4 linked regions of the Homo sapiens genome follow. The protein of the gene in region 1 interacts with the protein of each later gene in a pairwise test. Each region holds a gene or a part of one and is shown in the gene's direction. Other genes may lie near its edges. The genes, in order: DAPL1, LSM1, TSR2 and FNDC3B.

What was found.
Region 2: the proteins of DAPL1 (region 1) and LSM1 interact in binary tests that used the Homo sapiens proteins (3 or more experiments, as listed by UniProt).
Region 3: the proteins of DAPL1 (region 1) and TSR2 interact in binary tests that used the Homo sapiens proteins (3 or more experiments, as listed by UniProt).
Region 4: the proteins of DAPL1 (region 1) and FNDC3B interact in binary tests that used the Homo sapiens proteins (3 or more experiments, as listed by UniProt).

The regions. Positions count from the first base shown.
Region 1 is NC_000002.12:158,790,615-158,798,321, forward strand, and holds the start of DAPL1 (death-associated protein-like 1), read left to right. Parts: upstream 1-4,702; 5' UTR 4,703-4,758; coding exon 4,759-4,816; intron 4,817-7,707. UniProt on the Homo sapiens protein: May play a role in the early stages of epithelial differentiation or in apoptosis.
Region 2 is NC_000008.11:38,166,473-38,173,509, reverse strand, and holds part of LSM1 (U6 snRNA-associated Sm-like protein LSm1), read left to right. Parts: intron 1-1,476; coding exon 1,477-1,545; intron 1,546-3,592; coding exon 3,593-3,708; intron 3,709-7,037. UniProt on the Homo sapiens protein: Plays a role in the degradation of histone mRNAs, the only eukaryotic mRNAs that are not polyadenylated. Probably also part of an LSm subunits-containing complex involved in the general process of mRNA degradation.
Region 3 is NC_000023.11:54,435,639-54,443,403, forward strand, and holds the start of TSR2 (pre-rRNA-processing protein TSR2 homolog), read left to right. Parts: upstream 1-4,765; 5' UTR 4,766-4,783; coding exon 4,784-4,864; intron 4,865-5,051; coding exon 5,052-5,142; exon of another isoform or gene 5,143-5,253; intron 5,254-7,761; coding exon 7,762-7,765. UniProt on the Homo sapiens protein: May be involved in 20S pre-rRNA processing.
Region 4 is NC_000003.12:172,399,541-172,402,169, forward strand, and holds the end of FNDC3B (fibronectin type III domain-containing protein 3B), read left to right. Parts: 3' UTR 1-2,129; downstream 2,130-2,629. UniProt on the Homo sapiens protein: May be a positive regulator of adipogenesis.

The DNA.
Region 1 (7,707 bases):
ACTGTTTTTTGTTTGTTTGTTCTTGTTTTGATACAGGGTCTCACTCTATCCCTCAGGCAGTGGCGAGATCTTGGCTCTCTGCAACCTCTGCCTAGTGATCCTCCTGCCCCAGCCTCCTGAGTACCTGGGGCTACAGGCATGCGCCACCACACCTGGCTAAATTTTTGCATGTTTTGTAGAGATAGGGTTTTGTCACATTGCACAGGCTGGTCTCAAACTCCTAGACTCAAGCAATCCTCCAGCCTTGACCTCCCAATGTACTGGGATTACAGGCATGAGCCACCATGCCCAGCTGCTTATTTTTATAAATTACCAAGTTTCAGGTATTCTGTTGTAAGCAATAGAAAACAAATTAAGACACCACCCCACCACCTAAGAGTCACCACCCTCCCAGTTAGCTTTCTTGCCCCTGATTTCTAACATAGATTTCTCATACTTTCAGAACTTAGCATAAGGTACAGCATGTAACTAATGTTAAGAGAAAAAAGAAAATATAAAAATTAGATGCACCCTGCAAATATACAGGTGCATGAGGAAGGTAATGTCTCCCACATACAAATTAAAAGAAGAAAGTGCAATACTACGATGAAAGTGTTGTATGATTTTAAAATATGATTAATGTTAAAGCATCCTTTCATTTTAAGACAGAAAGCTCTCTGGCAACCTCAACGTCGTGAGAATCCATTTTACTAGGCTTTTTGCATTACAAAGCACAATTTCAAATACTTTGGTCCTAGCATGAACTGCTCTCCTGTTGCAGTTAACTCGACTGATGCCATTTTTAAAGTGAGCTTTATAAGCCCATTTAAAGAGTAATAACATGTTGTCTTCTTTCCATGAGACTTTCACCCTGATGGAAGCTCCAGTATGTCCCCAGAGTAAATCACTTGGGCTCCACTTACCTCACAGTGTACAAAACAGGCCTGGGCTTTTCATGACGAACATAAAGAGAAGGCAAGGGAAGACCCCACCCCACTTTGGGGCTGCCCTGTGCTCCTAAGCACACACAGAGGGAGACAGAGTTGGGACCCTGGGCCTCCTCCAGTGGAAGCAGAAAGAGTGGCAGGGCAGGAAGGCTGTGCTGGGCGGGGCCCAGAGGAGGCCACATTGGCCTCATTTTTGCTTTTGCCACTTACCTTTTACCATCACCCTGTGGATACCACTACTCCCGTTCCCTTAGATCAGAATTTTCCAACTTGGATTTCAAGAGCACAAATTCTTTCCTCCCTTCTTTCTTTCCTTCTTTCTTTCTTTCTTTTTCTTTCTTTCTTTCTTTCTTTCTTTCTTTCTTTCTTTCTTTCTTTCTTTCTTTCTCTCTTTCTTTCTTTCTCTCTTTCTTTCTTTCTCTCTTTCTTTCTTTCTTTCTTTCTTTCTCTCTCTCTCTCTCTCTCTCTCTTCCTTCCTTCCTTCCTTTCTCTCTTTCTTTCTTATTTATTTATTTTGAGATAGGCCTTGCTATGTTGCCGTTGAATTCCTGGGCTCAAGCAATACTCCCAACTCAGCTTCCCCAAGTAGCTGGGACTCCAGGTGCACAACACCCCACCAAGCCAAGAACACAAATTCTAGGGGGTTTTTGTTGGTTGGTTTCTGTTTTTGAGACAGGCTCTCAGTCTATCGCCCAGGCTGGAATGCAGAGGCATGATCTTGGCTCACTGCAGCCTTGACCTCCTGGGCTCAAGCAATCCTCCCACCCCAGCCTCCCAAGTAGCTGGGACCAGAAGCGTGTGCCACCACTCCTGGCTAATTTTTGTATTATATTTTTTTTAGAGATGGGGTTTCTCCATGTTGCCCAGGAGGCTGGTCTCTTAACTTCTGGGCTCAAGCAATAGGCTGGCCTCAGCTGCCCAAAGTGCTGGGATTACAGGCGTGCACCACCAATCCTGGCCCTCTAAGGGTTTTTTTTAGGGCCATGAGAACGAACGTTTTCATGATGAAAAATGCTCTGCGGATGCTGCCTACTAAATCCCCCTGGGGAGGGTCACAATGTACATCTGTGAACTGAAGGCTTTACATGCGAATGATGTGAAAAGAAATCCTGTTTAACATTACTTCATGGATAAATCGAGTATTTGCCCCAAAGAAGCCTTCTCTGCTTGGGCATGCATTATATTCTGGTCCAACCACTCATTCCTCCACATCACTTAGGCTGTCCTAGGTGCAGGCTCTCCTAAGGGGTGGTTGCCCTTTGATTTCCTCCTTGCCTTTTGCACTTTCGCAGCTTATAGATATAGAAGATAACCAATAAAATCTGGTACCAAACAGTCACACATCTAGGCTTTATGCTACCTACCTATGCTGTCCAATACCAGAGTCACATGCCACATGTAGCTATTCCTATTTCTATTAATTAAAACTATTTAATTTTAAATAAATTAAAAATTCAATTTTTCAGTTGCACCAGCCACATTTCAAGTGCTCAAATGAATGTGTGGCTTGTGGCTACAACACTGGTCAGAGCAGATACAAACATTTCCATCTTCTCAGAAATTTCTGAGGAATAATGCCACAATAAACCTTGTCAATCATAGAAGGAATTCTGTTAACCTTCTCATCATGTCCATATCCGCATGAGAATGTGAGATCGCTGAAAGCAAGAATGAGATTTTCTCATCTCTGAACCCCAGCTCCTAGTCCAGGGCCCTGCAGGAAAGGCCACTCACAAAATAACTGCTAGATGATATGAATGTTTCCTCTTTGCTCCCAAAAATGTGCCAACCTTTGTCGCAACACTTTACCATACTTTTCCCTCAAAAAAAACTTTTATTAGTTTTTATTTATTTAAAAAGTAATACAGAATACTGAAAGAAGATTTAAAAATCCACATGTAATACTCCCACCTACAGAATGCCACTCTTAACATTTTGGAGTATTTACATTCATTTATTTACAAACAGATTTTTTGTCATTTGTTGAGGCATATTTTGCATATGGTAAAATTCACCCTTTTAAGGTGATGTGTGTATGACGTATGATGAATGTAACAACCACTACAATCAAGATACAAATTATTTCCATCACCCTCAAAAAGTCACCTCCTCACCTTTGTAATTAAGCCACTCTCCCCAACCGCTCTCCAGCAATCACTGATCCAATTTCTGTTCCTAGGGTTTCAACTGTTCAAGAATGTCATGTACATGGAATTATATAGGAAGTAGCTTTTTTTAGTCTGGGTTCTTCCATTTAACGTGTTGCTTTTGAGATTCATCCATGTTTCCCTTTTTATTGCTGAGTTATATTCTATGATATAGATACACCACAATCTGTTTACCCATTCTACAGTTGAACTTCGGAGTTGTTTCTAACTTTTGGCAATCCTGATAGAGCTGTTATAAACATTTGCACATAGGGTTTTGTGTGTACATATGTTTTCATCACTCTTGGGAGAATTCCTAGCAATTGGATTGTTAGTCATATATAGTAAGTGTATGTTGAATTTTATAAGAAACTGTCAAACTGACTTCCAGAACACCTTTGCTTTTTTGCGTTTCCCCCAGCAATGTATGAGAGTTTCAGTTGCTCTGCGTCTTCACCAGCATTTTGTATTTTCCTTTTTTTTCTTGTCTTGAGCCATCCTAATACATATGTAGTGGTATTTTATTGTGGCTTTAATTTGCATTTCCCTAATGACTAATGATGTCGAGCATCTTTTTGTGTGATTATGTGTTGTCAATATCCTTACTTTGTAATGTTTTATTTGAATCTTTTGCCCATTTTTAATTGGGTTGTCTGCTTTCTTATTATTGAGTTGTAAGAATTCTTTATACATTCTAAATGTCGGTACTTCATCAGAAATGCATTTTACAGATATTTTCTCCCAGTTTGTAGCTTGTTTTTATTTTCTTAACAGGGTTTTTCGAAGAGCAGACAACTGCTCTTCAAGTTGTTTTTTAACTGTACTGAAGAACAAAGAAATTTTTATAAATATCTGCCACATGCTAAACTTTTATTGGCGCTGGAATTACAATAATGGCTAAGCTTAAAGTTGTATTTTTCCTTTTTAGCAAAATTGGCATTGATTGGTTTCTTGTCTACTTTTTCACTATCTTATCGTTAATATTTCTACATCATTAAATATTATTTGAAAACATGATTGTAAGGTATACTCTCACAGTGATTTCTTGATTCATCTTAACTATCCCTCTGTATTTGGAGATGTTTATCTTGATTCCCATCAATATTTTAAAAAGAAAAGAAGCATATGATTCCCATCCTTGCGCAGAAATCTCTGTATACATTTCCAATTATTTTCTTAGTATAAATGCTTATAATTGCAAAAACTGGGACAGAGGCACAGGACTTTGCTCTATACCTGTCTCTTTAGAAAGACTACAGATGTCCTGAAGCAAAGAGCTTGTCTTGGCCCCCTTGTCATGCCAGAATATGACAAAAGCCTGTTACATTGCAGGTGCACTATACACACTTGAGGGATCAACGGTTGGAGAGAAAAAGAATTCCACTGAACTCCATCCTCTCCCTTTCCTCCTGTGGAAAAAAAAGAAAGAAAAGAATATCCTGTCTCCTGCAGACATCTACCTTGCCTTCCCAGATGAAGGGAAGAAGAAAGTCTTCTTCTAAGAGAAAACTTGCCAAGGAGATGCAGGTTTCCCAGAGAGCTGGATGACAAGCCCTGTTGCTGCTCAGCAATGCCCTTAAGGGGCCCTGCCCCCTGCCTTTATAAAGCCGGTGCGGTGGTGGGGCAGCCACAGCTGGCATTCAGCCTCCAGAGCACCAGCACTGGCACTGGCACTGGCACACGCTATGGCAAATGAAGTGCAAGACCTGCTCTCCCCTCGGAAAGGGGGACATCCTCCTGCAGGTAGGCTGCCACCTGCCCTCAGTCCTGCAGGCTGTTGCTGCTCCCCTCTTCCACCAATGCCTTCCATGGAGCACCCCGACAGACGGAAGCTTCTCTGTCTACCCAGTATGACTTTAACTCCATGCAGCCTGACTTCCTCTTATGTCTTTGATCCTTCTTAGCTTGTATGTAAATCCACCCGGGGATTTGTCAGACCCCCAGTGAGTTAAAACCTAATTACCTACGGCAGTGTATGGATTTGGGGCTTGTGGAAAGGCATAGGTAGAGAGGTTGCACCTTTCCTCCCTCGAGGCAGCATTCCTTTCACGGGGCCCTGGCTGTAGATTAGCAGTGACACATCTACACCAGGAAGATGATTTGCTACCATGGAAACCTTTCTCTTTAGAGGTTCCAGCTGTAAGACTCAGTCTCCCCAAGATGCCTGTGCATCATGTGACTTCCTACCCAGGCAAAGCAGCTTCTGCACAGAGGACAACAATCACATTTCTTTCTCCCTCCTCAGGCTTTGGGGATGTATTTACCTGTCAACAAGCTGAGAAGTACTTTTAAATAAAGACACAGGACTTGAGGAGGCTGACTGGAAAAAGTAGCTGTCAAGGTGTTTGCAAAGCATCCATAGTTGTCTTTTTTTTTAATTTATGCTATCTATATTGACTCTCTGGAATATGGAAATTAGTTTTATTGTACTTAACCATATGTTCATATAGATTGGCTGAGGTGTACAGGCCTATTTTTAGTCAGTTTTATATTCTTCCAACTGCCTTCCTTCTTTTTTACTGAAGAAAGAACTCAAAAGCTTGACTGCTTTGTTCTTGCCTTTCTCCATTTACAAAAACATATTTACTGTCTAATTCTCTGGCACCTCTAGGCCAAGGTTATTTCAATAATCTTTGCTGCAGAGGGTGATGGCGGGTATTGTCTTCACAGAGAGTCAAAATGTAACATTGTTTTGGTGGCTTTCCGGCGGGTAGCCTGGCCAAAAAGAGTCCAGATTTTACTACTCATTCTGAGTTTCCAGCTCTAGACATCTTGGTCTGATCTCCTCTGGTAGATTACTGATGTTTTATATTTGTAATCAAATTTAGCAATATTTAACATTACCTATATTTAAAGTTAATTATGCTAGCTAATAGTCAGGAAGTATATATGCAAATCATTGGAAGACAGGCTCCTTACATAGACAAAGACAAAAGAAAAAAGAACTCCATTCTCATTATGTTGTTTCCACTCCAACCCTTCATAAAATGGCTAAGATGAAACCTGTTTTGCTAAACTACATTTATGCACAAAGAACACAGACATAAACTTAACCAAATGAAAGTTCGAATGAAACCACCGGGAACTTTCTGTCCCCACCACTAATGATTGCTAATTACTCTGTGTACATAGCACACCATGACTCCATCAAGCATGTCACAATGCCTCTGGCATGACAATTAATTATTATGAACTGTGACACTACAGATAAGAGGTTTTGGATAATTAGAATGGAGATGAAGGCAGACTTTTGCCTCCCCACTGAGCACAAGGGAACAAAGAAGTGTCATCCTTCAGCCTGTCTTGCCACTAATTTTAAGTCTGAATCTGTTTGTGGTGGTGCAAAATTTTATTTATGGAACAAAAACAAGTGCCAAAATTCTGTTAATTTTTCACTTGATTTTTATAAGCAAAATACAGATCCCTAAAAGTGGGAAGAAGATACGATTCGGTGGGGAGGGTGGGACATACATAGCCTTTGGAATCAGACAGACCTGGGTTTGAACCTCAACTTCATTTCACATCTTCGAGCCTGAGTTTCCTCATCTCTGAAACAGGATGCAATAAATAACATCTATCTAGTAAGTTTGTTGTAATGATTAAAAGAGATCACCTCTGTAAAGTATCTGGCACCTGAATGTTAGCCCCCTTAAAATGCAGGCCCGGTAGAACACATCACTATCAAAAGAAATTATCCTCCCCAATTTCAAGACATCCTGATGCTGGAGCGGCATTAGACACTACTGCAGTAGTTGGAACAGAAAGAAACTGCAATGGAAAAAATATGTGCCTATCCCATCACAGTTAAAAATGAAATCACTCAGCTGGGTACAGTAGCTCACGCCTGTAATCCCAGCACTTTGGGAGGCCGAGGTGGGTGGATCACCTGAGGTCAGGAGTTCAAGACCAGCCTGGCCAACATGGTGAAACTCCATCTCTATTAAAAATACAAAAATTAGCCGGGCGTGGGGCATGTGCCTGTAATCCCAGCTACTTGGGAGGCTGAGGCAGAAGAATCGCTTGAACCCAGGAGGCAGAGATTGCGGTGAGCAGAGATCACGCCACTGCACTCCAGCCTGGGCAACAAGAGTGAGACCCCGTCTGAAAAAAAAAAAAATCACTTAGAAGTCAGCCTGCTGCATCTCTTTCCTACCTATCTATGGAGCAGTCAATGGTTTCACTTTAATGTATATTAATATAATATATTGCATCTCTGATAGCCCTAGTTATACATTTATGCTGTGAAATGAGACTACATAAAACACAAGGTGGCCTGGGCTCCAGTAAGAAGAACTTGGAATTTTCTGCTTTTTTGATTTGTCTCACCCTCACTTTCAGAAGAACCCCATTATATGAACAGCAGCACCAAAAATGTGTGAGTAGAAGTTGACCCCAGGAAGCCAGATATATGATGAATAGAAAGAAGAGCAGTGGTTCATGACTTTTTCTATATTTCCTGCACTTTTTAATTGGGTCTAAGCCAAATGAATCAGAGCCATTAGAGGTGTTGCCACTGAATCCCTAAAGAGAATATGTTTTCTGACTCATTAAAGAGAGAAGGAAGTTGGAGGGGGAGTATGACCAATTGTAAAACTAATGCAGAAAATGGGGGACAACCATAAACTGCATATGGA
Region 2 (7,037 bases), on another chromosome or scaffold:
ATGCAGCCTGCGCCCAGTACTTTTCTGACTTTATCTACTGTTCTTTCCCTTCACACCCTCAGCTTTTAGCTAAACATGGATGTATAGCCCTTTTTTCCTCCTCTTTAATTTACAGATTTCCTTCTCCCCCCCCGCCCCCTTCCTATCACTCTTCTTGTGCCCTAAAATTATCTACCTTTTAAGGTCCAACTCTGATACCTCCTTCAGAAATACAGTTTCTCTCTCTGTAGTCTCATATAATTAAGATTTGCTTTCTGTGGTACTTATTTATAGCGCAAGGAAGAGTATAAATTCCTTCAGGGCAGAGTCACTGTGTTTTTCCTCTGTTCTGCATCTAGAAAGTACTTTAGGCATGGAATGAAAGAAATTTTGCTGGGTGCGCTAGTAACTGGCTTATTTTCATTCTTCAGTGTCAGCTCAAAGTCACCTCTTCAGAGAGGCTTTCCCTTGCCACCCTTCCTTCTGTAACCACTTCTCTCCCTTCATCATACTGCCTTGCTAGTTTATTATTCCATTGTCCTAATCACAATAGGTTATTTTCTTATTTATTTGTCCTCCTCCAACATGAATATAAATTCATAAGGTTGGTGACTTTCTAAGTCTCATTCTCTACTGTATGTCTAGACCCCAGAACAGCACATGCCCCCTCAGTAAACATTGAATTTCTGCTCTAGCTTATTATTAGTCTTCATTTTAAATGCCTGAAGCATTGTGTTTTTATTTAAAGCCTTCTATGGTTACAAACAAAATGTGAGATAGAAGCTCATCTTTTGAGGACAAAATAATTCTACAAATAAGATAATAGTCATCTAGATTAAATTTGTCAATTTACAGATATAAAAACTGACATGACATGAGATGGTTTAAGTGTCAAACATAAGGGTCTTTGGCTAGGCGCCATGGTTCACGCCTGTAATCCCAGCACTTTGGGAGGTGGAGGTGGATGGATCATCTGAAGTCAGGAGTTTGAGACCAGCCTAGCTAACATGGTGATACACCATCTCTACTAAAAATATGAAAATTAGCCAGGCATGGTGGCAAACTCCTGTAGTCCCAGCTACTAAGGAGGCCGATGCAGGAGGATCGCTTGAACCTGGGAGGCAGAGGTTGTAGTAAGCCGAGATTGTGCCACTGCACTGCAGCCTGGGTGACAGAGTGAGACTCTGTCTCAAAAAAAAAAAAAAAGAAAAAAGGAAAAAAAAAAAACCAACATAAGGGTCTAGAGCCAGCTAGTCAGGCTTCCTGGTGCCACGCCCTGTCCTTTTCCCACTCTGCCACACTGCTCTGATTCTTTTCACTACTGATGTTATCTAAATCCGCGTTGCTGTGCTGCTTTTTTCAGTTTTCCAATGAACTTGAACTTCACATTAAATGCATTGGCCGAGGAAGTGGTACAGCTTAAACTGTTAATTATTATCCTAAATACTCGCTGAACTTGTCAGTTTTCATTTAAAAGATTTTTTCCTCTCTCCCCAGAAAAGCACTTGGTTCTGCTTCGAGATGGAAGGACACTTATAGGCTTTTTAAGAAGCATTGATCAATTTGGTATGTATTAATTTATGGACATCTCTTATACTCTGGATAATAACAGCAGCCCATTGCATTTTTTGTTATTTAATATTGAAATTTATCTGCAACTTTTTCACGTGTGTGACCTAGTAGGACTGATTTTAGTGAGTACATCATTGTTTTCTATACATTCAGATTAGGTGGTTCAAAGCTTATATATATTTCCAAGCTCGTTTCTAAAACTGGCTTTCAGTAGAATCCCCAGTAGGGGGAGCCAAATGATAGAAATAAACTCAGTCCACCGAAGAGGCTTGTTTTGTTTTGTTTTGTTTTTTGTTTAGACGCGCTCTCGGTCACCCAGGCTGGAGTGCAGTGGCACAATCTTGGCTCACTGCAACCTCCGCCTCTTGGGTTCAAGTGATTCTTGTGCCTCAGCCTCCCAAGTAGCTGAGATTATAGGCTCCAGCCACCACCCCCAGCTAATTTTTGTATTTTTAGTAGAGACGGGGTTTCGCCATGTTGGCCAGGCTGGTTTCAAACTCCTGACCTTAGGTGATCCACCCACCCAGCTGAGCTGGGCAGTTGTTCTGCTCCTCATGGTTTTAGGACAGTCCCTTGGTGTCTAGAAGGTGAGTCAGCTGGTTTGAAGGAGCTTCACTCACATGTCTGGTGCATCAGTGGGGACAGCTGGAAGGCTGGTCTTAGCTCCCATAGTGCTGAGATTATAGGCGCGAGCCATTGTGCCCGGCCCAAGGCTGCTTATTTCTACATTGGCAGGGTAAAATGACTTCAAAGCAGTTCCGGAAGTGAAGGTAATCCCTCCCTAGCCAATGAAAATTGGGTAGAAGGCATTTCCTTTATTTTAAGGACCCCAACATTAAGCTTAATACTTTACATATAGGGATACATTGGAATAAGAGGCCTCTGTCTTTGTTTCGCATCCTGCATTTTTCTTAAGTTAAAAGATTATGTTTCCTTCTGTTTCAAGGAACTTCATGTTCATGCTAACATTTATTGGATATCTGCGAAATCACTGGATTTGAGCATGAGGAAGAAACGTAATTAAAACACTTAAAAGGATTATGGAAGATATGAACATAGATTTCTCCTTTACTTCAAATAGGACAAGTAGTACTAATTGAAAGAGGAAAAATAATTATTGTTAACAAATTGGAGTCCTGATTCTTAAGTCAGATTCATCAGAGTACTTTGAGGGAAGGGTAGTGGCTATTAAGTTGACTTTTAGATTACAAATATAGTTATCTGTCAAGGTGAAAAAATAGGTTTTTGCTGTATCATAACCCATGGATACCTGCGTTGGGTCAAATGAATCCTAATTACTAAAAGAAAGTTGAATCTTCAGCAGATCATCACATACACACCCACACAAAAAGAAAAGCTGTTTCTTTCCAGAAAACAAAAGTTTTGATCTCTGTGGTTGTTTAGGCCCAAGTTTTCCAAGTTCCTTATTCATTTATATTTTCCTATGGTTTTTTTTGGTATTAGCAATTAACTGATAAAGGAATTTATTTCTCTTATTTCTGCTGTCATTCATGTATTAGCCCAACATAATCCCAGACATCTCCTAACTGGTACGTCTTACTCAATGAAATAGGAGAAGATTATTTGAAATTTTAGCCTTCCCCAGAATTAGAAAGCTTGGGGGCCCGGCACTGTGGCTCACGCCTGTAATCCCAGCACTTTGGAAGGCCGAGGTGGGCGGATCACAAGGCCAGGAGTTCAAGACCAGCCTGGCCAATGTGGTGATCCCTGTCTCTGCTAAAAATACAGAATTAGCCGGGAGTGGTGGCAGGCACCTGTAGTCCCAGCTACTCCGGAATCTGAGGCAGGAGAATTGCTTGAACCAGTAGGCAGAGGTTGCAGTGAGCTGAGATGGCGCCACTGCAGTCCAGCCTGGGTGACAGAGCGAGACTCGGTCTCAAAAAATAAATAAATAAAAATAATTAGAAAGCTTGGAAATCATGTTTACCTAAATCTTTTCAAAATAACTGATTATTGAGTTATGGGCCTTTACCCAGTAGTTTAAACTAAATATCTTTGGTTTTTCCCTATACACTTACAGCAAACTTAGTGCTACATCAGACTGTGGAGCGTATTCATGTGGGCAAAAAATACGGTGATATTCCTCGAGGGATTTTTGTGGTCAGAGGAGAAAATGTGGTCCTACTAGGAGAAATAGTAAGTGAAAACTATTAAGCTGCTGTAGATCTTCATATTCATGCTAGTTAGACTTCTTTTTTTGTCTTTTCAAAAGAGAATAAAAATATTCTCCACATTTATCTGGCTTCTCCTAGGCAACTACCAAATTAATTTAGGGAAGCTACAGAGAATACTTTGTTTCAGTGCCTTAACAAATGTGTTCATTAATATATTTGTTTAATAGCAGAAAATTGACAAAGCTTGATTTATATATGCTGGGGAAGGTGTGTCTTACATACGTTGGAATATTTTGCAGTCATTTAAACAATTGGTTACAAGTGGTTTTTCATGGCATAAAGCTAATGCACAGTATTTCAGGGAAGTACATATTGCCTGTACAGTACAATGTGATATCCATATTAGTAAAGGGGGAAAGGGAAAGAGTAGCTATAGGAAAAGCTTTTCCGTTACCTATCCCGAGAATGGAGTTCAGTCTTACTTGGATCCTTAGCTCACAGCCAGGGAGAGGGTATTTTGGTATCTGTGCCAGAAAGACCAGCTGGCAGGTGAAAGGTTAAATCAGATTTTCTGAGGTATTGTTGCTGTAGGTCTTCGTGTGTGCAGACATACACACACACACCCCTACTAGAAGTACTCAGATTTTTTTTTAAAGTATCTTATTTAAAACCTTTGATTTCATCTTGTTATTTCTGATTATTGGGTTTGCAAGGAAAATAAAAATCTCTTCAAGAGTAGTTGAAATTAAGGGTTGAGCCAGCACTGTCTTCTTTTTTCTTACCAAAAACTTTGGTGTTTGCTTAATTTTTAAAGTTTTTAATACTGTTTTCTAAATACCTAGCCATGTCTTAAATCAGTTTGCAGAAATCTTTAGAGTGGTTTGGTTTGTAGCCATTTTTAACAGCCATTTGAGAAAGCAAGGAGATAATTCTGCTAGGGTTGGGTTGGTTCAGAGACCTCATATTGGAAATAGCTAGAAATGACTAATCCAGACTATCAATACTGCCCAAGTGAAATATATGAAGTATATGAAATATATGAATATATGAAATATATGCTGTGAAATATATGAAATAGCTTTTTCTTACTTATAAAATATTTATAAGTAATACTTATAAAAATTTTTCTTATAAAATATTTTTGTAGTTTGTACTTTTAGTTCAGTGTATCATTTCTTGCATGTTTAAGCAGCAGAAATTGTTTTTTGTTTTTTGGGTTTTTTTTTTTTTTTGGGACAGAGTTTTGCTCCTGTTGCCCAGGCTGGAGTGCAATGGCATGATCTCAGCTCACTGCAACTTCCGCCTCCCAGGTTCAAGTGATTCTCCTGCCTCAGCCTCCCGAGTAGCTGGGATTACAGGTGCCCGCAACCAAGCCCAGCTAATTTTTGTATTTTTAGTAGAGACGGGGTTTCACTATGTTGGCCAGGCTGGTCTCGAACTCCTGACCTCAGGCGATCTACCCGCCTCGGCCTCCCAGTGTGCTGGGATTACAGGCATGAGCCACCGCGCCCAGCCAAGCAGCAGAAATTGTTATCTTCTTGTGTCGCATAAAGGCTGAAACAAGGCCAGGTGCGGTGCCTCACGCCTGTAATCCCAGCACTTCGGGAGGCTGAGGCGGGCGGATCACAAGGTCAGGAGATCGAGACCATCCTGGCTAACACAGTGAAACCCCATCCCTATTAAAATACAAAAAAGTTAGCCGGGTGTGGTGGCGGGCGCCTGTAGTCCCAGCTACTTGGGAGGCTGAGGTAGGAGAATGGCATGAACCCAGGAGGCGGAGCTTGCAGTGAGTCGAGATCGTGCCAGTGCACTCCAGCCTGGGCGACAGAGCAAGATTCCGTCTCAAAAAAAAAAAAAAGTCTGAAAGCACCTAGTACCATGGTACCCATGGGGAGACACTACATGACTGTAAAGTAGTCTGCCAGTATTTTTTTTCTTCCAGAGATGGGGTCTCACTATGTTGCCCAGGCTAGATTCAAACTCCTAGGCTTAGGCAATCCTCCTGTCTCAGCCTCCCAAGTAGCCGGGACTATAGGTACATGCCACTGTGCTTGATACTGCCAGTATATAGGGGAGCTGACCCATCTCTGCATGGTGGGGTTATAGATGATTTTTAAAAATACTTTTCTGAATTTAATTTTGAAGAGGCAACGTATCAGAGGAAAAAACTTAAGTTAAAATACTGGGGTGGGTGCAGTGGCTCACGTCTGTAATCCCAGTACTTTGGGAGGCCGAGGCAGGCAGATCGCTTAAGCTGCAAGAGACCAGCCTGGGCAACATGGCCAAACCCTGTCTTTACAAAAAAATACAAAAATTAGCCAGGGGTGATGGTGCACATCACCAGTCCCAGCTACTTGGGAGGCTGAGGTGGGAGATTCACCTGAGCTCAGGGAGGTCGAGGCTACAGTGAGCCATGATTGTACCACTGCACTCCAACCTGGGTAACAGAGCAAGACCCTTTCTCAAGAAAATATTCACAGATATGCTTCTGTTTTATAGTAGTAAACATAGCAGACATGCTTTTTATACTGGTTACATTGGCACAAAGTTACATCTAAGTAGATGTGTGTGTTTGTGCAGAGAAAGAGGTGAACGTGTTTGTTCTTGAAGTTTAATTGTTTCCTTGGATCCCTTTTGTGAGGAAAAGTTCCCTTTTTTAAAAAAATATGTTATGGTTTGGATGCTGCAGAAGTTTTACAGGGGTACCACTACAGAAACTTGGTTCCAGGAATGCCTGCATTGTTATGTGAATCAGCAATCAGGAGAAATTATGTACCAACCCCAGAGGAATTCATACATAGAAATCAGTTTCTGTAAACACTATATTGGTTAAGAAATCCCTGAATTCTGCCTCAAGGACGATGATGATGACACAGCATTAAGTAATAAGACTGTTGGGAAGAAGCAGCAACAGCAGCATGAATTGCTTAGCAAGTCACATACTGAAAAGCCCAAGAGGCAGTGCATTAGGCCGAGAACACTGTGCTCTCTTTAGCTGCTACTCATGGGTTGGGAGGGCAGGTGGTAATATATACTTTGCTGGGTGCTGTTAACTTTGGACCTAGAGCAGGGCTTGCTTATGTAATTTGTGTGGCTTTCATTGTAACTTCTGTGGTGAGAGTCCTCTCTGACTGATAATGCCACTGCCTGTGAGTTCTGAGACCTTGGCAGCATGTGGTAATAGTATGCAGGGCAGAGCATCTGGAGAAGTGTGTCAGTACCGTCCCAAACTTTTATCATTGAAAGTCATAGAGGAGGGTAAGAAACAGGAATACTTTGTATAGGCTTTCCATCTTACAAAAACACCAAATAATACCTGTACATTCATTTTAAGGACAATAAACTGAATCT
Region 3 (7,765 bases), on another chromosome or scaffold:
CCTGTGCTCCTTTCTCCCTGGGCATTGCACAGAGATAGATTTATCGTAGAACAAATCAATCTTAAGCATCAGGGCCCCACACTTGCACAGGCCACTTCCAGGTCTCTGGTTATTGAGCCTGGTCTATTTGAAGAATGTTTAAGATTTGTCGCTGTGCCAAGAGAAGTTAAAATAACCTGAAATCTTACAGCTCACATGTAAAAGAAACTAGAAATTTTCCCAAGTTTGACAAAAATCTTAAAATGTACATTACTAATAATGAGTTGTGAAATTGAAACTTTTCTAAAATACTAATAATAAAAAATTTTACTCAACTGAATTGAAATCAATTGAATTCTTTGTGTTCTCTCTAGAAAATATAAAATACTTGTCATATGAAGAGTTCTATAAACTCTTTGATATCAAAAAATGTAGAAAAATTAGTAGAGAGGTGAGTCATGTAATTAATAAGAATATTTTATTTTGGCAGGGCGTGGTGGCTCATGCCTGTAATCCCAGCACTTTGGGATGCTGAGGCAGGCGGCTCACCTGAGGTCAGGAGTTTGAGACCAGCCTGGCCAACATGGTGAAACCTTGCATCTACAAAACAAAAACAAAACAACAAAGTAATATTTTATTTTTCTGGGTTAGAAGATGTTTGTGACATTTGTCAGTTTTTAAAAATTTGTAATTTGTAAATTAGATTTCTAATTTTAAGGAAATACTTTCATCAATAAATCAACAAATAAGTAAAGTGTACAATTCAATGGCTTTTAGTATAGTTTCTTCTGATTTGCTCCTTGGCTTTCTCCTTAGCTTTCTCACTGTGTGTTCACATAGTTGTCCCTGTGTGTACACCTCTCTGGTGTCCCTCTTTGCCTGTGTCCTCATCTCCTCTTATTATTATATTTTGTTGTTTTTTGTTTTTGAGACAGGGCTTGTTCTGTCACTCATGCTGGAGTGCAGTGGTACAATCATGGCTCACGGCAGCCTCAACCTCCTGGACTCAAGTGATCCTCCCTCCTCAGTCTCCTGAGTAGCTGGGACTACAGCCATCACACTCAGCTAATTAAAAAAAAAATTTTTTTGTAGAGATGGGGGGTCTTGCTTTGTTGCCCAGGATGGTCTCGAACTCCTGGCCTCAAGTGATCTGAGCCATTGCACCGAGTTCTAATCTCCCCTTCTTTATAAGGACATCAGTCATAACGGATTAGGGCCCACCCATGCAACCTCATTTTATCTTAATTACCTTTTTAAAGGCTCTATCTCCCAATACAGTCACATTCTGAGGTACTGGGGGTTAGGGTTTCTACATATGAATTTGGGGGGTGGTGGATACAATTTAGCTCATAACAGCAACCATTACCTCGTCTAATTTTTAGAACATTTTCGACACCCCCAAAAGTAGCCCTGAAGCCATTTAGAAGTCACACTCTATTCTTTCCCCATCCAAGCCCTGGGCAACCATTCATGTATTTTCTGTCTCTATAGATTTACCTATTCTGTATATTTCATATAAATGGTATCATACAATATGTGGTCTTTTTTGACTGGTCGGTAATTATACGTCCTCTTTCGTTCCTGATTTCAGTAATTTGAGTCTTCTTTCTTTTATTTCTTCCTCAGTCTAGCTAAGGGTTTGTAAATTTTGTTGATCTTTTCAAATAACTGACTTGGCCAGTTGCATTTGCTCACACCTGTAATCCCAGCATTTTGAGAGGCGAGGCAGGTGGATCGCTTGAAACCAGGAGTTCAAGACCAGCCTGGGCAACAAAGTGAGACACCCCCTCCCAACACACACACACACACACACACACACACACACACACACACACACAACCACACACACACACACACACACACACTAGCCAGGCATGGTGGCCTATTCCTGTAGTCCCAGCTAATCAGGAGGCAGAGGCAGGAGGATCCTTTGAGCCCAGGAGTTTGAGGCTGCAGTGAGCAATGTTTGTGCCACTGCATTCCAGCCTGGGCAACAAAAAAAGACTTCATCTCTGAAAAAAAAATAACCGCCCAGGTCCGGTGGCTCACGCCTGTAATCCAAACACTTGGGAAGGCTGAGGTGGGCAGCTCACTTGAGGTCAGGAGTTCAAGACCAGCCTGGCCAACATGGTGAAACCCTGTCTCTACTAAAAATACAAAAATTAACGGGGCATGGTGGCATATGCCTGTAATCCCAGCTACTCTGGAGGCTGAGGCAGGAGACTCCTTTGAACCTGGGAGGCAGAGGTTGTAGTGAGCTGAGATTGCACCACTGCACTTCAGCCTGGGTGACAGCACCAGACTCCATCTCAAAACAAACAAACAAACAAACAAAAAACAACAACTGACTTTTGGCTTCACTGTTTTTTCTTTTCTCTATTGTTTTTCAATTCTCTATTTCATTTATTTCTGTTCTATTATTTATTATTTCCTTTCTTATGCTTGCCTTGGGATTACTTTGCTCTTCTTTTTCTGGTTTTGTGAAGTGGAAGTGTAGGTTATTAATTTGATATCATTCTTTCATTTTTTATTTTTTTGAGACAGGGTCTTGCTCTGTCCCCCATGCTGGAGTGCAGTGGCACAATCACGGCTCACTGCAGCCTTGAGCTCCCAGGCTCAAGCAATCCTCCCACCTCAGCCTCCTGAGTGGCTGGTACTACACGCATATGCCACTATGCCCATCTAATTTTGTTTGTTCGTTTGTTTGTTTGAGACAGAGTCTCACTGTGTCGCCCAGGCTGGAGTGCAGTGGAGTGATCTCAGCTCACTGCAACCTCTGCCTACCGGGTTCAAGCGATTCTCGTGCTTCAGCCTCCCAAGTAGCTGGGATTACAGGTGTGTGTCACCATGCCTGGCTAACTTTTGCATTTTTAGTAGAGACAGGGTTTGTTCATATTGACCATGCTGGTCTCAAACTCCTGACCTCAGGTGATCTGCCCACCCAAAGTGCGGGAATTATAGGTGTGAGCCACCATGCCTGGCCTAGTTTTCAAATTTATTTATTTATTTAGTTTGAGACAGAGTCTCACTCTGTTTCCCAGGCTGGAGTGCAATGGCACCATCTCGGCTCACTGTAACCTCCGCCTCCCGGGTTCAAGCCATTCTCCTGCCTCAGCCTCCCAAGTAGCTGGGATTACAGGTGCTTGCCACCAGACCTGGCTAATTTTTGTATTTTTAGTAGAGACGGGGTTTCACCATCTTGGCCAGGCTGGTCTCGAACTCCTGACCTCAAGTGATCTGCCTGCCTTGGCCTCCCAAAGTGCTGTGATTACAAGCGTGAGCCACCACACCTGGCCTAATTTTTAAAATTGTTTTTAGAGATGGGGTCTCACTATGTTGCCCAGGCTGGTCTTGAACTCCTGAGCTCAAGCCATCCTCCCGCATCAACCTCCCAAAGTGCTATGATTACAGGCATGAGCCACCATGTCCGGCTCTTCTTTTTAGATATGCATGTTTACAGCTAAAGATTTCCCTCTAAGTTTTGCTTTAGCTGCATCTCATGCATTTTTTTATGTTTTTGTTTTCATTCATTTAAAAGTGTTTTCTAATTTGCTTTGTGATTTTTTTCTTTGACCCATTTATTGCTTAGGAGTGTGTTAATTTCCATATATTTGTGAATTTTGTAAGTTTCTTTTTACTGATTTTTAACTTCTTTCCATTGTGGTCAGACAACATACTTTGTATGTTCAATCCTGTTAAATCTATGGAGGCCTACTGTATGGCCTAGTGTATGATCTGTTCTGGAGAATGTTCTTGTGTACTTCAGAAAAACATGTACAGTTATCCCTGGGTATCCGTGGGAGACTGGTTCCACGACCTCCGGAGGATACCAAAATTCATAGATGCTCAAGTCCCTGATATAAAATGGCATAGTATTTGCGTATAACCTATGAATATTCTACTGTATACTTTAAATCATTTCCAGATGTGACTCACGCCTATAATCCCAGCAATTTGGGAGGCTGAGGCAAGTGGATTAAACCCAGGAGTTCGAGACCAGCCTGGGCAACATGGCGAAACCCTGTCTCTACTAAAAACACAAAAATTAGCTGGGAGTGGTGGTGGGCACCTGTAATCTCAGGTACTCGGGAGGCTGAGGCACGAGAATTGCTTGAAACCAGGAGACGGAGGTTGCAGTCAGCCGAGATGGCGCCACTGCACTCCAGCCTGGGCCACAGAGTGACACTCGGTCTCAAAAAAATAGATAAATAAATAATTTCCAGGTTACTTATAATGCCTAATAAAGTGTAAATGCTATGTATATAGCTGTTATACTGTACTGTTTAGGAGAATAATGTCAAGAAAAAAAGTATACACATGTTCAATGCAGATGCAATTTTTTCCTGAATATTTTCCATCTGAGGTTAGTTGAATTCACGGACGTGGACTGCCCCCCATAGGGAGAGCTGATTGTATTTTACTGTTGTTGGTTGCAGTATTCTATACAGATGTTAGGATGCTTTTTTTAAATGCAGATTTTTAAGGCTATACTCACTGAGTCCTCTGCCCCAGGGCCTGGAATCTGTATCTGTAATAAGTTCCCCACATATTTCCTCCGCAGTACCCACGGATCCGGAAACCATGGCCCCACACGTCCTTCAGGTCTGGTGTCCTTTGATTTAAGTGAGTAACTCTGGTGGTGTCATCGATCGCTCTGACAGATTTTTCTTTTGCTCTAGTCTTGCTGCCAGGTCTGCGGAAAAGAGAATCCTGTGTTCTCAGGCTCGGCTTGCGTCTCGTTCTGCCTGGGCCGAGCTACAGAGGGATTGGGCCGCCGGGACGTCACGTGGACTGGGGCCGGATAATGGCGGGCGCTGCAGAAGATGCGCGAGCTCTTTTCCGGGCTGGGGTCTGCGCGGCCCTGGAGGCCTGGCCGGCCTTGCAGGTCAGTGGGGCCAGGGCCAGGGCAAGGTCAAGGTTAGGGCCCGGGGCAGAACAGGAGTTGGTTGGGCTAGGTGCCTGAGGCTTGGCTAGGCGGCATAAGAGGAGTTGGCTGGGCGGCGTAAGCGGCCTCCAGGCTACTCCAGGTCTGCTCCCAAGCTGACTTGGTGGGCTTGGACCTGTGTTTACAGATCGCTGTGGAGAATGGCTTCGGGGGTGTGCACAGCCAGGAGAAGGCCAAGTGGCTGGGGGGTGCAGTGGAGGATTACTTCATGCGCAATGGTGAGTGAATGTGAGGCGCCGCGACCCGCCTGTGTGGGGGTGTGGAGAGGAGGAGCCCCATCCCGCAGAGCCTGCATTTCCTCTCGAGCAGTTGTGGATTGGTACCTAAAGGTGAGGTGGAATGAATTCAGCTTTTAGAATCAGAATCCTGGATTCCAGTGCTTTACGGGCTGTACCACTGACTCGTGGGATTACTCTGGACAAGGCAGTTTACCTCCCTGAGACTCAGTTTCCTAGTTTCTAAAATGCGTATAAAAGTATCCACCAGAGCGCTGTACAGTAGAAATATTATGCTAGTCACATATAATTTAAAATTTTTTAGTAGCCACTTTAATAAAGCAAAAAGCAGATGAAATCAATGTTAGTAAACTCGGTGTGTATGAAATATTTCAACATGTAGTCAGTATAAAACATTGAGATATTTTACATTTTTTAGTATTAAGTTTTCAAAATCTGGTATTTTACAGTTTTAGCACATTTCGATTTGGCCTAGCCATATTTCAAGTGCTCAGTAACCACCTGTGGCTGTTTGGACAGCAAAGATCTACACTGTAGGCTCGTCTTGAGGGATATACAAGAACAAGAGGCCCAGTAGAGGGCCTGTTGCATAGTATGGTTTTTAAAAAAATCTTCATTCAATTTCTAGCTTTGGAGATGACATTAGGCAGAGTCATCTCTCTCAAGAAAGTATACTATCCATTGAGGATCCACACACGTAAATAGTTACAACATTGATAGATTTTCTGATAAAGAGGAGCTCAGGGTGCATGGGGTAACAGGATGGGGAGACAGCTTCTTAGTGGAGGTGGTGAATTGGGCTGGGTCTTAGTGAGAAGGAGTTAACTAGGTGGGGGAAGCAGAGAGAGCAACACTCAAGTTCTGTGGCATGAGGGTATAATGTGTTATATTTGGAAAGTAGCAGGGAGCTCAGTATTGGAGTATGGGCGTGTGTGCGTGGGGGGTGGAGGAGTGGTAGAGAATGAAGCTGGGGTGTGGGAAGCCCCCTTGAAAAGCATAAGACATGGAAGCCCTTATGTGCCTTTGATTTTATCATTTAGGCCAGTGTTTGCCAAAATTCATGCTAACTAGTTCTGTTAGATGTTCAGTGAAGAAGCTTCTCCAGTTACCTTATGTAAGAAAAACTCTTGTTCTGCTCCCACTGAAAAGTCTTAACACTCATGAACATATTAAAGGCTTGGGTAAGAATAAGAACCACTAAAAAACCTGTTTGCTTTTGTTTCTCATTAGCTTTCTATGGATAGTGTCCCTTAAGACCCAGCAGAACAGATATTTCTCAAAGGCAAACTGTGAAACACTGCAGTGGCTGGTAAAAATTCGTGGGCAGGTTCTAGGGTGAGAAATAGGATGGGATTTGCTGGCTAGAAAGTTCAGGAAATAATCAGTATGAAGCATAACCTGGAGAGGGAAAGACTGATGAGAACGCTGTTTTTGTCTAGAAACTGATGAGGCCTGAAGTAGGACAGTGGCAACAGGCATGGAAAAGAAGGGGTGGAATAGGGCCTTGGAGATTGGTTGGCTGTAGACAGGGAGGGAAAAAGAGGCAAGTTCCTGGTTTGAGTTGATGGGTGGATTAGGTGTCTTTTCTCGGAGTAGAGGAACCCTGGAGGATGCGAAGCAGGTTTAAAGAGTAAGGTGATGAGTCTGGCTTTAGATATGGAAGATCTGCGGCATCTGTGAAACGTCCAGGCACAGAGTAGTCTCAGTTGGAGATAAATTCGGGGGATATTAAGTTTGAGTGGTAGGGAAAGCCAAGAGTGTGGATGAGCTCTCCCAGAGAAAGCACATAGAGGGGAGAGGGCTAGGAGCTTTGTGGGAGACTTTCTTGAGTTACTGTCTAATTCAGAAAAAGTAGAGCATAGGCCCATAGGTAACTGAAGCCCAGAGAGGAAGGTGGCTCAGTCAGAGTCACACAGTAGGATGTCAGTGTCAAGGCTATGATGATTTCATCATTGGAATTACTATGTCCATTTCTTCTTAACTATCCCATTGGTCTGTGGCTTCTTTTATCAGTGGAACCACAGTTGTGAAGGTTCTCTTCACTTCAAAAACTTCAGCTTTTGCATGATAGAAATTAACATGGATCATGGATCTTCACTGTGCTAGGCATTGTGTTGGATGGTTCCTCATAACAGACCTTTGAGGAGGCCACCATTAGCCCCACTTTACAGATGAGAAAACTGAGGCTCAGAAAGAAGTAGCTTGCTCAAGGTCTCATAGAGGGGAGGCTAGTTAGAATAGTCCAGATGAAAGAGGGTGAGTGTAGGGCTGGGAGTTGTGGAAAGAGGCCTTGGTAGGATGGAAGAGATTGGAAATGAGGTATTAATATTTAGTGGTTCTTTAAAAAATTATGTTAAAACCTGGAATGCAGAACACTTTAGCAGATAAAAGGCAGGATGGAAGAGATTGGAAATGAGGTATTTTTAGTGGTTCTTAAAAAATTGTTAAAACCTGGAATGCAGAACACTTTAGCAGATAAAAGGCTCACTGTGCCTTTACCCACCCAGTTGCAGATCCACCAAGTAGATATTGAAGAGCAGTGGGCAGGGGTGATGAAGTTGGCTGGTCTTTGACCCAAGGGCCCTGTCCTTTTCTACTTAGCTGA
Region 4 (2,629 bases), on another chromosome or scaffold:
TGACTATAATAATTAGTTTAATTAGCTTTGCAAACTGATGGCATCAAGGTAAATATATTTTTGCCAAAGTTCTGGCCTTCCAAAACTCACCCCCTTATTTAAATGTGTGCTATGACCCACTATGACCACAGCATCTGCATTTTCTAAAAAATTCCATGCAGGTGTTTTGGGGAGAGGTATTTTTTAAGCAATGAAAATTCAACTGAGTACAAAGCCCCCTCTTGGGGGGTTGGGGAAGTCTCTTTTTTGAAACACTTCAGAACTGCTGCTATAAAGAAATTCTCTAATTGGTTGAATTTTTTTTTTAAGTAAATAGTACTTTAGGCCAAAATTTATATGAATATTTGATCTTCTTGAGATTTTCATACTATCATTTAACCACCAGGAAGCTGAAGTGTGTGAAGTACAAAGCTGACAGCACTTTATTTTATTGCTCTCCATTATTTGGTATTCATTATATTCCTTCAGTCAGAAAATTATTACTCTCTATGGCACTGTTTTTTATCACAAATATGTATATGTGATATTGATATATAACTATATATATTGCCATCACACACGAACAATAAAATAAAGTGTTCTATTAACCTGATCTCTTTGCCCTTTTGCTATGTGAGGAGTGAATGAGTGGCCTTCTGATGCTCTGACTCTTCTCTGTATGTCAAACTCATCCCTGGCACAAGAAATTCCAGTCATGTGAAGCAAACTGCCCTTTGTCCTCAAAGAAATTGTTGAAAAAGAAAACTTTTTAAAGAGATTTTTTGCATATTCTCTGCCTTGTTCTTATCAACTTGAAATGTTGGCATTTTCTAACCTTGTTTTGTTGGCTACAATAATTCAGTATTCATGTCAAAATTGAGAAGTGCCCTAATTGAATGTGTTTGAATGTTATCCTTGCACAATTCTTTAAATTGAAAGATAAAATGTTTTACCTCACTGTTGGACATACATTCCAAGCTTTTCAACTCTAGGAGAAAAAGAAAATCATGTTTTCCTGTATTGTAAATTTTAGACTATTTCATATACATTGTATTAAAACTGCCATATCAATTTTAATGTATAGATTTTGCAAATATTATGCTATATGTAATACCTAACTGTATCTGTAGTGTATATGTAATATATTTATGCCCAATAAATGTTTTAATTCTTTCTGACTTAAATAGGGTTTTTCTGCCATGACTAGGATTGCTTTTGTTGTTGTTGTTGTTGTTTCTTTCTTTTTTTTTTTTTTTGAGACGGAGTCTTGCTCTGTCGCCAGGCTGGAGTGCAGTGGCGCGATCTCAGCTCACTGCAACCTCCAGCTCCCAGGTTCAAGTGATTCCCCTGCCTCAGCCTCCCAAGTAGCTGGGGATTACAGGCACTCGCCACCATGCCCGGATAATTTTTTTTTTTTTTTTGAGTTGGAGTCTTGCTCTGTCGCCCAGGCTGGAGTGCAGTGACCCAATCTCGGCTCACTGCAAGCTCCACCTCCCGGGTTCATGCCATTCTCCTGCCTCAGCCTCCCAAGTAGCTGGGACTACAGGTGCCCGCCACCACGCCCGGCTAATTTTTTTAATTTTAGTAGAGTCGGGGTTTCACCATGTTGGCCAAGATGGTCTCGATCTGACCTCGTGATCTGCCCGCCTCGGCCTCCCAAAGTGCTGGGATTACAGGTGTGAGCCCCCGCACCCAGCCTTATTCTTCCCTTTTAAATACTTAAAGCACATTCAGATTAGTTGAAAATTCACGTGTTTTTGGAGGCCAGGCAGGTGGCCTTCTGCAGAGACAGCAGCAGCTCAGCTCTTGCTGACCAAGGCCTTGGAGGACTGTGAGCCACAATCACATATGTCCATGTTTCAAAAGAAGCTAAATATCCAGATTTCCTCCATGGGCCAACTAAAAGGTGATTGTGGACTATACAGGCTGCCAGTTTAATCCTTTATCAGAGTCTCTGTGGATAATGTACCTTGTTGCCTAATACTTTATCTGTCTACCAAAACTCAGTCCAGATCTCCCTCTGTTCACCTGGCACACTGGGTGCTTCCTCTCCCCTGACGAACTCTATAGAGTGTTCATGTCCTTTCCTGCAGGTCTCATTCAACAACAACAACAACAACAGCAATAAAACACAGTGTTCCTGCTATGGCCATGGTTTTGTGATTTTAGATTGTCTTAGTAGGAATTCCCACTATCTCTTTTATTTTTCAGGAAAATGGGTAAAAAAAACTGTCACTTTATTGAACCTCACTTATATGAAGCATGGTAATTATTCTGGGTAAAGATGACAAATTGAGCACATCAAATTTTGAATGCTCCTGACACCACTAAAAGTAAAGGATTTTTTATTTTTTTAAGTCACAACTCAACCCTCAAGACTGGGAAGAAAGAGGAGTTATTGGCACCAGAATTTTGGAAATATGATCAACAAAACTTAATTCTAATTTGGCAGAGGAGAAAATGAGCATCAGTGTTTTTATTCTCAATGCAGGATACCCTAAAGGCTCAAAAATTGACAGCAACATATCCCTTTGAAGTGATAGTGAAGAGAGAGAGGAGGCTAAAATAGTATTGGTTGAAAGCTGTTTAAAATGCAGTTAGATCAATAAAATCCCTCCCCCTTTTTTTTTTCAGCTGGACAAAAATGTCC